Linked DNA regions of Homo sapiens: region 1 is linked to region 2. The links come from fine-mapping of genetic effects on gene expression. Tissue or cell type: whole blood. Region 2 holds a variant in brackets; the other region holds the start of a gene. All regions are shown on one strand. Distances are between the middles of the regions.

The links. PIP is the estimated chance that this variant, and not a neighbour inherited with it, causes the effect.
Region 1: VTI1A starts here. The variant in region 2 is fine-mapped to the expression of VTI1A in whole blood (INTERVAL, PIP above 0.99).

What each region holds. Positions count from the first base shown.
Region 1 is chr10:112,444,232-112,449,380 of GRCh38, reverse strand. VTI1A (vesicle transport through interaction with t-SNAREs 1A) reads right to left here and starts at 2,166. Exons shown (of 8, transcript NM_145206.4): 1 at 1,914-2,166. The coding sequence starts at 2,007. It overlaps ZDHHC6 (zDHHC palmitoyltransferase 6), which reads left to right and starts at 2,467. Exons shown (of 11, transcript NM_022494.3): 1 at 2,467-2,676; 2 at 3,731-4,211. The coding sequence starts at 3,945. RefSeq lists enhancers at 2,101-2,360, 2,561-2,680.
Region 2 is chr10:112,816,018-112,821,165 of GRCh38, reverse strand. It overlaps VTI1A (vesicle transport through interaction with t-SNAREs 1A), which reads right to left. Exons shown (of 8, transcript NM_145206.4): 8 at 2,422-5,148. Among named protein-coding and RNA genes, the nearest start is that of LINC02935, 72 kb to the left of the region's middle. The variant TG/G (reference allele first, on the strand shown) is at 2,357.

The sequences.
Region 1 (5,149 bases), 370 kb after region 2:
AACACGATCTGTTTTCTTGGAAATTTACAACTTTGCATCCAAGGATGATTTTGTTACCTTGTAAAACAGCTTCCCAATACAAAAACTAATAACCCAAAGAAATGTTTCTACTGCTAAAACAATTACAATTAAAAATGAGTAAAACTCTAACTGGAACCACAAGTCCTGATACTCTGAGGCTCTGGGACTCAATTCAAAGGAAGTAGTCTCCAACAATAACAAAAATCAAGACGATCTCCGGCAGTGGAGAAAAGCAGAACTGAAGAGAAGAGGCGAGGTGATGTATCATGAAGAGATGAGGCCATCAGCCACTTTCGACACAAAAATCTCTGAGGCAGCAGAGCTTGGTGGTATATACTACCTTGGTTCTCTCCTCTTGTTCCCTTACTTGGACTCATAAACCTCTTTAAGACATCATCCATCTCCTCCAGAACTAACTGGGGACTTCAGGAGATGAGTGGGGTATAAGTTCAGAGATCCTGGCTTCAAGCAAATATCCCTATTAACAGAAAATAGGTGAGGGGAAGAAAAACAAAGAAATAAGGGAAGAAAATTACTTATAAACACATAAGTTTTGGGGGAAGTAGGGAAAGGGAAAGAGGAATGACAACTTAGGTCCGGGAGAAATTATTGCTAGTACCAGGACAAGTGGGCAAGTGAAGTGCCCACCAATCCGCAGATTAATGAGCACATCCACCTTTCTACACTTTATATCCTGGAGCTAGGGTAGGGACAAGTCTAGCAGCCAGATGATGGTTCAATTTCCCTAACAAAACTAAACAAAAATGTAAAACCCTTTTCTGTAACTAACTACTCTAATCTGTAGAGAAAGATAGTCCCCGAATCAACATTGTACAAACCATAGTTACAAAAGATCATATTTATATTCACCTGCTCATTCACTTATTTTCCTGAGCCCCTAATAAGTAAACGCCAAGGAAATCAGACACAGCTCCCACCTTCACATAGTTGACAGTCTAGCATAGAAAATAAGATGTGCTAAAACACAAAAGGAAACACAAAAACAAAAACATTTCCAGATGGGAGATGTGAAATTTTTAAGTGTGAAAAATTATCTTGTACCAAGTTTTACATGAAACTGGGTTATACAATAAATCCCCAAGAAGGATGAGAAACAAGAAATGGGGGTGGGGGGTATGAAAAATACTAATGCTAATACAGCAACTAACAACACCAAAAGTGACTTTAAATATGTTATATAAATTTAATCTACCTAACAACCCCATGAGAGAAGTACAATTTTCCCCCATTTACTAAGAAGGAAAGTTGAAAGAGACTAAGAAGTCTGTTTAAGAGGCACAACTTTTATTTTATTTATTTATTTGAGACGGAGTTTCACTCTTGTTGCCTAGGCTGGAGTGCAATGGCGAGATCTTGGCTCACTGCAACCTCCGCCTCCCGGGTTAAGAGGCACAACTTCTAAGTGACAGAGGTAGGATTTGAATCTAGGCACCCTGATTCTTACCTCTATTTTGCCGCATATAATTATAACAATATTATTACTAACACAACAACGCCGCTGTAGATTGTAGATCCATAGGCTACATACTTTCATTCATTTTCTTTGAATACTCACATGTCTATAATTTACAAATGAAAACATTAAGACTCTTAAGACGTTAAGAAACGTTTCCAGGTTATGCAAGTTACAAGAAGGTAGAGCCGGGATTCGAACTCAGATGGCTCAGATTCCGAAGGCTCTTTTCACGGCACCCCACACCCGAACTTGACTCCTTACCCTCAACCAAGCCAAGCCGTATCCCTCCTGGGAACAGCCGGCACCACCCACTCCAGCCTCGCGCCTCATAGACACACTTACTCGGGCGGCGTTCCACCGCCCGCACCCTCCCAGCTCTCCCCAGCACCCTCGTCCAGCCGGGCAAGGCTCTCACCAGGCGGGAGTCGTGGGACCCTCGCAATCTTGCTGGTGATCTCTGCAGTGAGCACCGCGAAGTCCTGCTCGTAACCTTCGAAGTCGGACGACATGGCGGCTCCGGAACGAGTAGCCCAGGCCAAAGCCTAGGTCAGGGAAAGGGCCTCGAGGGGCAGCGAGGGGCCCCGCGGCTTAGGAACCCCGGAAGGTGCCCCCGAGAGCAGAACGGAGAACCGGGGACAGCTCTCAACCCAGCCGCTTCCTGGTTGTTCGTCGCAATCTCGGTTCTCCGGAAATTGGGTTGCGTGCGTGCTTTATTTTCCGCTCCGACTTTAAGATAAGTAAGTTCGCAAAGGAAAAGCGCCCCAATTAGTGCCTCCCCCCAGAAAAGCGTATGAAAATATGCAAGTTCTGAGGGATCATTAGAAGCGTTTTTTCCCCCCTTCGTGTTCTGGGAATCGGCTCCGGATCCACACGCTACAAGGCACAGCAGCTTGCTTCCGGAGGGAGGTTTGAGGCGGCGAACCTCCGGAAGTGACAGTAACAGAGACTGCGCAGGGGGCCTGAGCGGGAGAGTCCTGGCGAGGGCGCTGGCCGAGAGGTGCTCGGCTTGTAGCAGGTCCCGCACTCCAGCCTCTCGCTGCCAGGGTTTGCTCTCTGCTTGTCCTGGGCTGAGGTGTCCATGACGGAGTCATCCAAGGAGGAAAAAATCTGTTCCGGGTGAGCCCAGGCCGCCCCGGATATGCGATGGCTGAGGAGCAGACACCAGGGACCACACTGAGGTGGGAGTCAAGGCAGGGAATATAAGCACGATTTTGGTGGTCTTTGTCCCACCAGAGTGGGAGCAGGCTCTCCTGAATGTTGAGACCAACCTGGCTTACCAGGATATTTCTTCCTTGGGTGAGGATTTATTTCTAAGCCCTCTGCTCCATGACTCGGGCGGGAAACTGAGGCACAAGTCAACAGCGTCTGCTGCGTGGTAGTCTGTATTATCCATGTAGCTCAGATCCTCTTCCAGATCTTCAGATCCAGTCCAGGCAGAGATGCCCTTCCACAAATCTCTCCGGAGCTCGCCGCCCTGCCTTCCATTTCCCTCGCTCCTGGAGGCACTTCCTCTTCTTTCTTCCCTCGAATCTTCTAATTCAGGTTCTTCTCATATACTCTTCTGGTCATAATTTCACACACACCACACACACTCTCGCTCTATCTCCTCCCTTCCTTTCCTTGCATGCTCTCTTTGCTTTCACTGTCGCTCCTTTACTTTTGGGCCAAATTGACTGTTCTCTTGATGTTTGGGTGGCGGGGTGGAGGAGACTGCAGGCAAATGGCATAGACCATGTCTGACTCATACTTGGCTTAATTCAAGACTTCATAAGAGGCAGCTTAGAATTTCATAAAGGGAGGTCGTTGACTTGCCTTCTATTCTGGTTCACCTGTTACTTGTGACCTTGGTCTAATCACTCAGCCTCTCTAAGACAATTTCTGTTCTATGAAGAAGGAAACTGAATTAGATCAACTCTAAGGTCCTAAAATTCTTTGTCTTCTCAAACTATTCACTAAGCGTTGGATGGTGACAGTCCCCTGACAAGCGGAGAAGGAATAAAAAAAACTATTTTGGAATCGTGTATCCAGTTTGCATGCCATTCAAACTTGTACCATATTTTGGATAAGTCAAAAGTAGTTCTTTTTGACATTTGACAAGATATGCATCCCAAAGTGTAGTGCACTTGTGAGATGCTGTTGTGTAGGTGTTTATTGTAGTTAACAAGTATGGTATGCAATAAAGGTTTTGTTTTGTTTTGTTTTAACTGAACTTTCCCATTTTGTTTTCTTTAGGTTGGGTTTCAGACCAAGACACTGGATTCTCCTAGTTAAGATAAAGAGCTTTGGGTGCCTGACAGTGAAAATGGTGTAATCTGCGTTAACAGTTCACAGCTTGAAGGCATGACAATTAAAGAACACACATGGACTTGTGGCACATGGAAATGTGCGCACAGAAAAAGGAAATCTATAATTCTTTTAAAGTAGGAAGGCATTCTTCCTTGCCAAAATGGGTACATTCTGTTCGGTTATCAAGTTTGAAAATCTACAAGAATTAAAGAGACTGTGTCACTGGGGTCCCATCATAGCCCTTGGTGTTATAGCAATATGTTCTACCATGGCCATGATTGACTCTGTGTTGTGGTATTGGCCCTTACATACAACTGGAGGAAGTGTGAATTTCATCATGTTGATAAATTGGACTGTCATGATTCTTTATAATTACTTCAATGCCATGTTTGTCGGTCCGGGCTTTGTCCCTCTGGGGTGGAAACCGGTAAGAAAGATTCTGTAAGACAATGAACTTTAATGATAATCGTATATTTGGTTTTTGCCTTATCTACTAACCAATAATACCAAACACAGCCTACTGTTTGTCCTCACAGAGACTAAGTATATTACTCTAATCACTGATCATTTAGGCTCGGAGACTTTATTTCATATCTGTTTGAACACATTGATCCAAAATAGCATTTTCCAAAGCAATTTTATTGAATATTTGCTCTGCATTAAAAAAAAGATGGAGGTGGGGTGGAGGTGGGATAGGTTCATGGTCAAAAGTTTAGGAAACATCACATGTCATACACAGTGAGGTTTGGCTGTAGTACCTTTTTTCATGTAATACATTAACATCCCTTAGAACTGAGAAAAACGCTTTAGAAACTGCTGGTTTAAATCATAAAGTTTTAAAATCATTGCACTGAAAATATAACATTGGGAAGTATAGTCCAAATCCATTTATAGCTTAAAAACTACTGGGAAATTTATGCTTATGAATGTCCATGTTTCCTGCTAAGGGACCACACCTGATGGCTTGTCAGAAAGGCAGAATCTTGGGCTCCACTTCAGACATACTGAAGCAGAATCTTTATTTTAATAAAGTGCCCAGGTGATGCTTAGGTATATTAAAGTTCGGGAAGCACTGGTGTATATCATGTGCTATGTACTATTCAAAATGCGTACAGAGGAGGGTAAGATGTAATTTGAACTCTGAAAGAGCTTATAACCTAAGCAAGAAACAAACGCACTTGTGCAAATCACTAAACTATAAAGTAGAACGTGATGGGTGCTGTTAAAGTTAGAAGAATTGAGCATTGTTAGTTGGGGACCTGAGGGAGGAGTGGGAATTTCCAAAGGAGATGGGGAAGAGGGCATTTCAGGTTGAAAGAATGGTGGGACCACGTATTCAGAAACAGTAGACAGCCCTGTGTGACT
Region 2 (5,148 bases):
GAGTTCATGGAATCACAGTCCAGAGCTCTGCTTCCTGGCGACTGCCCCCTCTGTGATGTCTGAGTTCTTCATGTAGCACGAGTAACGAGCGATTCCGGATGAGGAAGTGCTTTCCCCATGGCACACTGGGAGCCCAGGAGCTATGGCCACAGGGGTGTTTGACTGGGGCAGGGGGCCCTGGAGAGATGCACCCTGTCTTTCCCCCTCTTTAGCTCCTCCTGAAGAAGGGCAGTGATGAGCTCAAGGGGGCCTACTTGCCCTTGCTATCCCCTGGTGCTAGAAAAACCCTCCATCCCTCACCTGTCCACCCTCTGCTACCCAACCCCCAACATATCGTGCCCCATCCTGCCATCTTGCTTTTGCCCTGCTCGCCTCTGGTAAGCTGGCTCCTTGTTACTGCGCTGGAATCCCAATAGAGATGGGAACTCACTCTGCACTCCCCGCATCTGCCCTCCTCCACAACAGGACACTAACCCTGGCTCAGTCACTCATTTCAGGAAGTCCTGGCTCCAGTGACAGACTCTTGCTGCCTGGGCCTGGCTGCTCTCATCCATCTTGGGTGCAATATTTGTGGCTTCAGGAGCTTTTCTGAGCTGTCCACGCAGTCACCTGCCCTGTTTAACAAAGACTGGCATCTGGGCTGAGAGCCACCTGACTGCTGACATTATGTGGCCAGCCTCTGGCAGGTGCCACTGGTCTGAGTCTGATGGGTCACAGGCAAAGTGAAGCCACCAGAATATCTCTTGGGGGCTAGTTTAGAGTTAGAGAGTTACTGCATAGGGTGAGGTTGAGTTTGAGCTAGTCTCAGGCAGACCCTCAACCAGGGTCACTGGGAGTTGGACTGAGGATGGCTCTTCACAGAGCCAGCCTTCCTTCCTTTCTTCCTTCCTTTCTTCCTTTTGGAAAAATGGCTCTTGGTACCTTTTCTGTTGAGGTGTGAAGGCCATCCCAAGGGGGACAGATTGTCATGTGGCTAATTTATCCTGGATTGAAATGGAGGCTTGAGATCCTCCAAAGCCTGGCATGTCTGCTGTTCCTACGCCCATAGTAACCAAAGAGGCTTGAGGCCAGGTCCCACCTGGCTCGTGCCTGCCAGGCAGGTACCTCCCACGCCGTGGCTCCTGCAGGACCATCTGTCCTTGGATGGGTGATGCTGAGAGATGCTACACTGAGCAAGGAACGTGCACCATCTCTTCCCCTCACACCCATGGTGGAGCTACATAAGGGGCCTGGTCCCTCTGGGGATGGGAGAAAGGAACTTCCCATTCCCTGATATTGACCCAACACCCCTGCCCTGAAGTGTCAATGAACCGGGCCTCTGAGGGTGGCTTCCATGGTTATATAAACTCATCAAACAAACAGGCTGAGCAGACATAGACAGCAGCCATAGCATGGAGAAGGCCACTGACTTCCGATTTAGGATGAGGACGATGGGGCTTTGTCCTCCCTGGCCCTTCAAGCTCATGGTCCATGGAAAAGAAGAGCCATTCACCAATAGCAAGTCACAGAAAGGAAAAAGGACAGAAGGCCCATCTCAGCAAAGTGTCTCCCTGTTGCATATTAGGGAAGCGCTGTTTGTAATGAGCTCCAGTTGACGGCACGGAGATGCCCAAGACATACCCCCAATCAGACCCTCCCCAAACCAGCCAACCAGACACACATCTTCCTTTAAGATGTCTCTACTGGCTCTCCCGCCTGCCCACATCCCTGCAACAACACACCCAGCCAAAGGGGAAGGCAAGTGGCTTGGAGACCAGGGACTCACGGTGGTTCCTCTGAAACCAGCGCTGACCACAACCAACCAACAGAACTTGGCTCTGAACTTCCCCTCCACACACACGTTTCTCCCAGGAAAGCCACCTCCACTCCCAAGCATGGAGTGCCTCACTAGGCTAGCAGTTCAAACCAAAGGGATGAGGAAATCATCACTCCTAGTTAATTCTCCACTACGTAGACAAACTGCTATTAATATTTACGATGGGAAATTTCATTATTTAAAAATTCTGCCCTAAATTTCCAGCTCACTCCATGAAGAACGCCTGCTGAACAGGTTGCAAATTAAGAACAATTATTTTTCTCTTCTGCATTTGAATACAACTTACAGCTAAAGTCATTTAAAGGGGTTAACATCAACCTTAATTAAATATTAAAGTGTGCCTGTACCTGCTGCTATTGTTGCCCCTTCGAATAAGATATAACCTATTTTTGACAAGTTTTCATCTTTCTCTGTGGAAGACGCTACATGAAACCAAATCAGTGGCAAAGAGGAGAGTAATGAATAATCTATTTCATATTCCAACAGTACCCAGAGCTCGGAGTGGAAAAATATTCAGTCAGATGATGGCAAGAGGCTGCT[TG/G]GGGTACCACATGACACAGCTAATGTTTAAATAATAATAATAAAAAAAAGCGATAAACAAATCATTAGCCCTTAACAGTTGTTTAATGCAATTTGTTAATGAACGTAATGGTGGGGACTAATAATGAAAGAAAATAAAAACGTCTAAACAGGCGCCAAGTTGCTGGCAATGCGCAATTATTTCCTTGTCAAGTTTTTATGATTTAATGAGCCCCTCTGGGACTGACGGCTGTCAGTCAGTCGTGACTTTTTGACACCATTACAACTTCAAATACAGCAGCAGGCAGGCTGTTTTCCTCGGATTTGAAATACTGAAATGATCTGACAGTTTTAAAGAAAAGATGTGCAAAAAAAAAGGAGAAAGAGAGGGAGAGAAAGACAGTTGCTTTTCCTTTCTTTCTTTTTTTTCCCCTCCCTTCTTCTATGGGTTGATAATCTCTGGATGCTGTTTGGTAATGAAAACCCAATCACTGAGGTCATTATCTGATGAGGTTTTTGGAACAGGCAGGCTTTTTTCCCCCTCTTTATTTCTTTACTTAATGATAACCCTCAATGGGCTTGCCCCGCATGGGATGGCCAGAGCCGCACAATTTTGTTCACCATTAATTTCAGCCTTTGAAGCTCAGGGCTCAGAAGCAGTAGCAAAGCAAACCCCCCACCAAGCTGGTTCCAAAATAAGACAATCCAGCCTGCCTTAAACAGAATAGCAAATGGCCTCCCAGCCCAGGCCCGGCAGCTGACGTCAGACCCACTGCATTTGCAGGCATTCGCCTTCAACACGGATCATTTAAAACTCTTTACAACTTAAGAGACTTTAATTAAATTGCTTTTGATTCTGGAGTGGGGTAGCATCCACTTTATTTATTCTGTCAGGGAAACTGTTTAGTCTGCATGAATTTTATATGGCAAGGGCTTCCTTCTCTTCTTCCTCCTCCATGCCTTCATCTTCCCCCCAACCACTCCCTTAAACATCATTTTTAACAAGGGCTCCCAACTTGAGAAATATTCGTCAAAGTCTACACACTAAGTACCTAGAACCTCTCACAGATCTACTTCACTATCTGCTTCAAGTCTGTGGACGTTATTCCTTTCCTGGTGGGGCAGGGAAGGAAGGAGAGCAATTGGCCTCTGCTGGGGATCCCCTAAGTCTTTTCTGCAGTGTCCAGGAGGACCAGGAAGGAGTTGAGGGAACCTTCTGACCAGCTTCCTCACAAAGCACTCACTAGCCTGGCCTAGGTAGTTGCTCTCAAGGAGGTTTGATGGAGCTGTTAGGCCAAGGGTTATCTGTTCATATTCTTCCCACTCCCAAGGTTGAATTGGGGTAAAATCACAGGCAAGAGCTGATAAAGACATAGAACTTGAACGAAAAAAGCTATTGAGAGGTGAGCAATGCCCTCCTCCTTTCTCATTTTGTCTGCTTCAACATGAACGCCAGGATTCAGTGAAATATTCAGGAGGCGGCCAGTTTAGATGATCCGATCAACCTTGCTTGCTAGGTGGCCTTGGGAAGAGTCTGCTGCATTGTGGACGGGATGGCCGTGCGAAGTGCAGCTGGTAACTGGTTATACACTTTAGCTAAGATCAACAGTTTTGAAGGAAGCCACCAGAGGGGCTGGTGTAATACTCGATGACTATTCGTGTGTCGGAATGAGAAAAGGGTTGTTTGTTTGTTTCCTTGCTTTTTAATGGTTCTTAGATGTGGTCAGCACGTACAGCATTCCGTTATCAGAATACAAGATTCTTGCTGAGACGGATCCCTTAAGCTGACAGGAAAATTAGCATAGCTTCCTGCTCCTTCTCTGTCCTGCTTCCCTCGGCCAAAATCCCACACCATCCCTCCGAAGTAAAGGCTGCAGCTTTATTTACACAATACTAAATGATTTATCCGAACACATGCAGGCCTTGGCCTGTTTCGATAAGTGCAATTTCTCTGGTGGATTCTGCCATTCTGCATTTCCTCTCTAAACCATAATGGTTTTCTTCTGAGTTGGGAAAAATATCAAGCACTACATCCAGGTGATATTGATCCACGGGCACAGGTGGTTAGCATTTTTGATGAAGAGAACAGGTTTGCTTTTCAAGGATTCAAAGCTTCTAATTATATTCCAAAGATAGTACGGACCAGTAAGTGCCTATGAAGTCTTGAGAAAAACATTCTGCTTTGTGACTGGGGGGAAACGACCTCAGCTTGGGCAACTTTTAAGCCTGATCACAAATGAGCTCATTTTGAACGCAATTCCTGGTTACCTCAGACAGAAAGAAATGAAAGAAAAAAATCACAAAGCATATTAGAAGTTTGAATACATAGTGAATTCAAGAAAGGCTTGCTAACATTTGTTAGTTAAAAACCCAAGCCATTCCTTTTGGAACAATCTGCCATCCTCTATTCTTTTAAAGGAGGTTAGGGAACGTTTTCCGTGAAGTTTATCTCTGGTGGACCCTCCTATAGGACTCTCCCATATTTATAATCACATTTGAAATTTCACACTGATGGAGTCATGTTCTTGCTCTTACTGAAATATTCATGGTCTCTTTACATACTGGAATGTATGTGGAGAGAACCTTGTCAGACCTTTTGCAAGTATGAGGACTGCTTTTGGCAGTGCAGATATTAAAACCGAAAGGATACAGAGATGCTTACACAGGTCAGGGAAGACGAGGTCACAATTAAATCCTGTACCAGGGCTCACTTTGCCAGCAGATTCTGGGGAGTATGGGATTTGGGGAAGGCAAGAAAATATTTCTTGTAGCCAGTAATCAAAGTTGTGAACAGTGAATACTGGGCAGGCTCA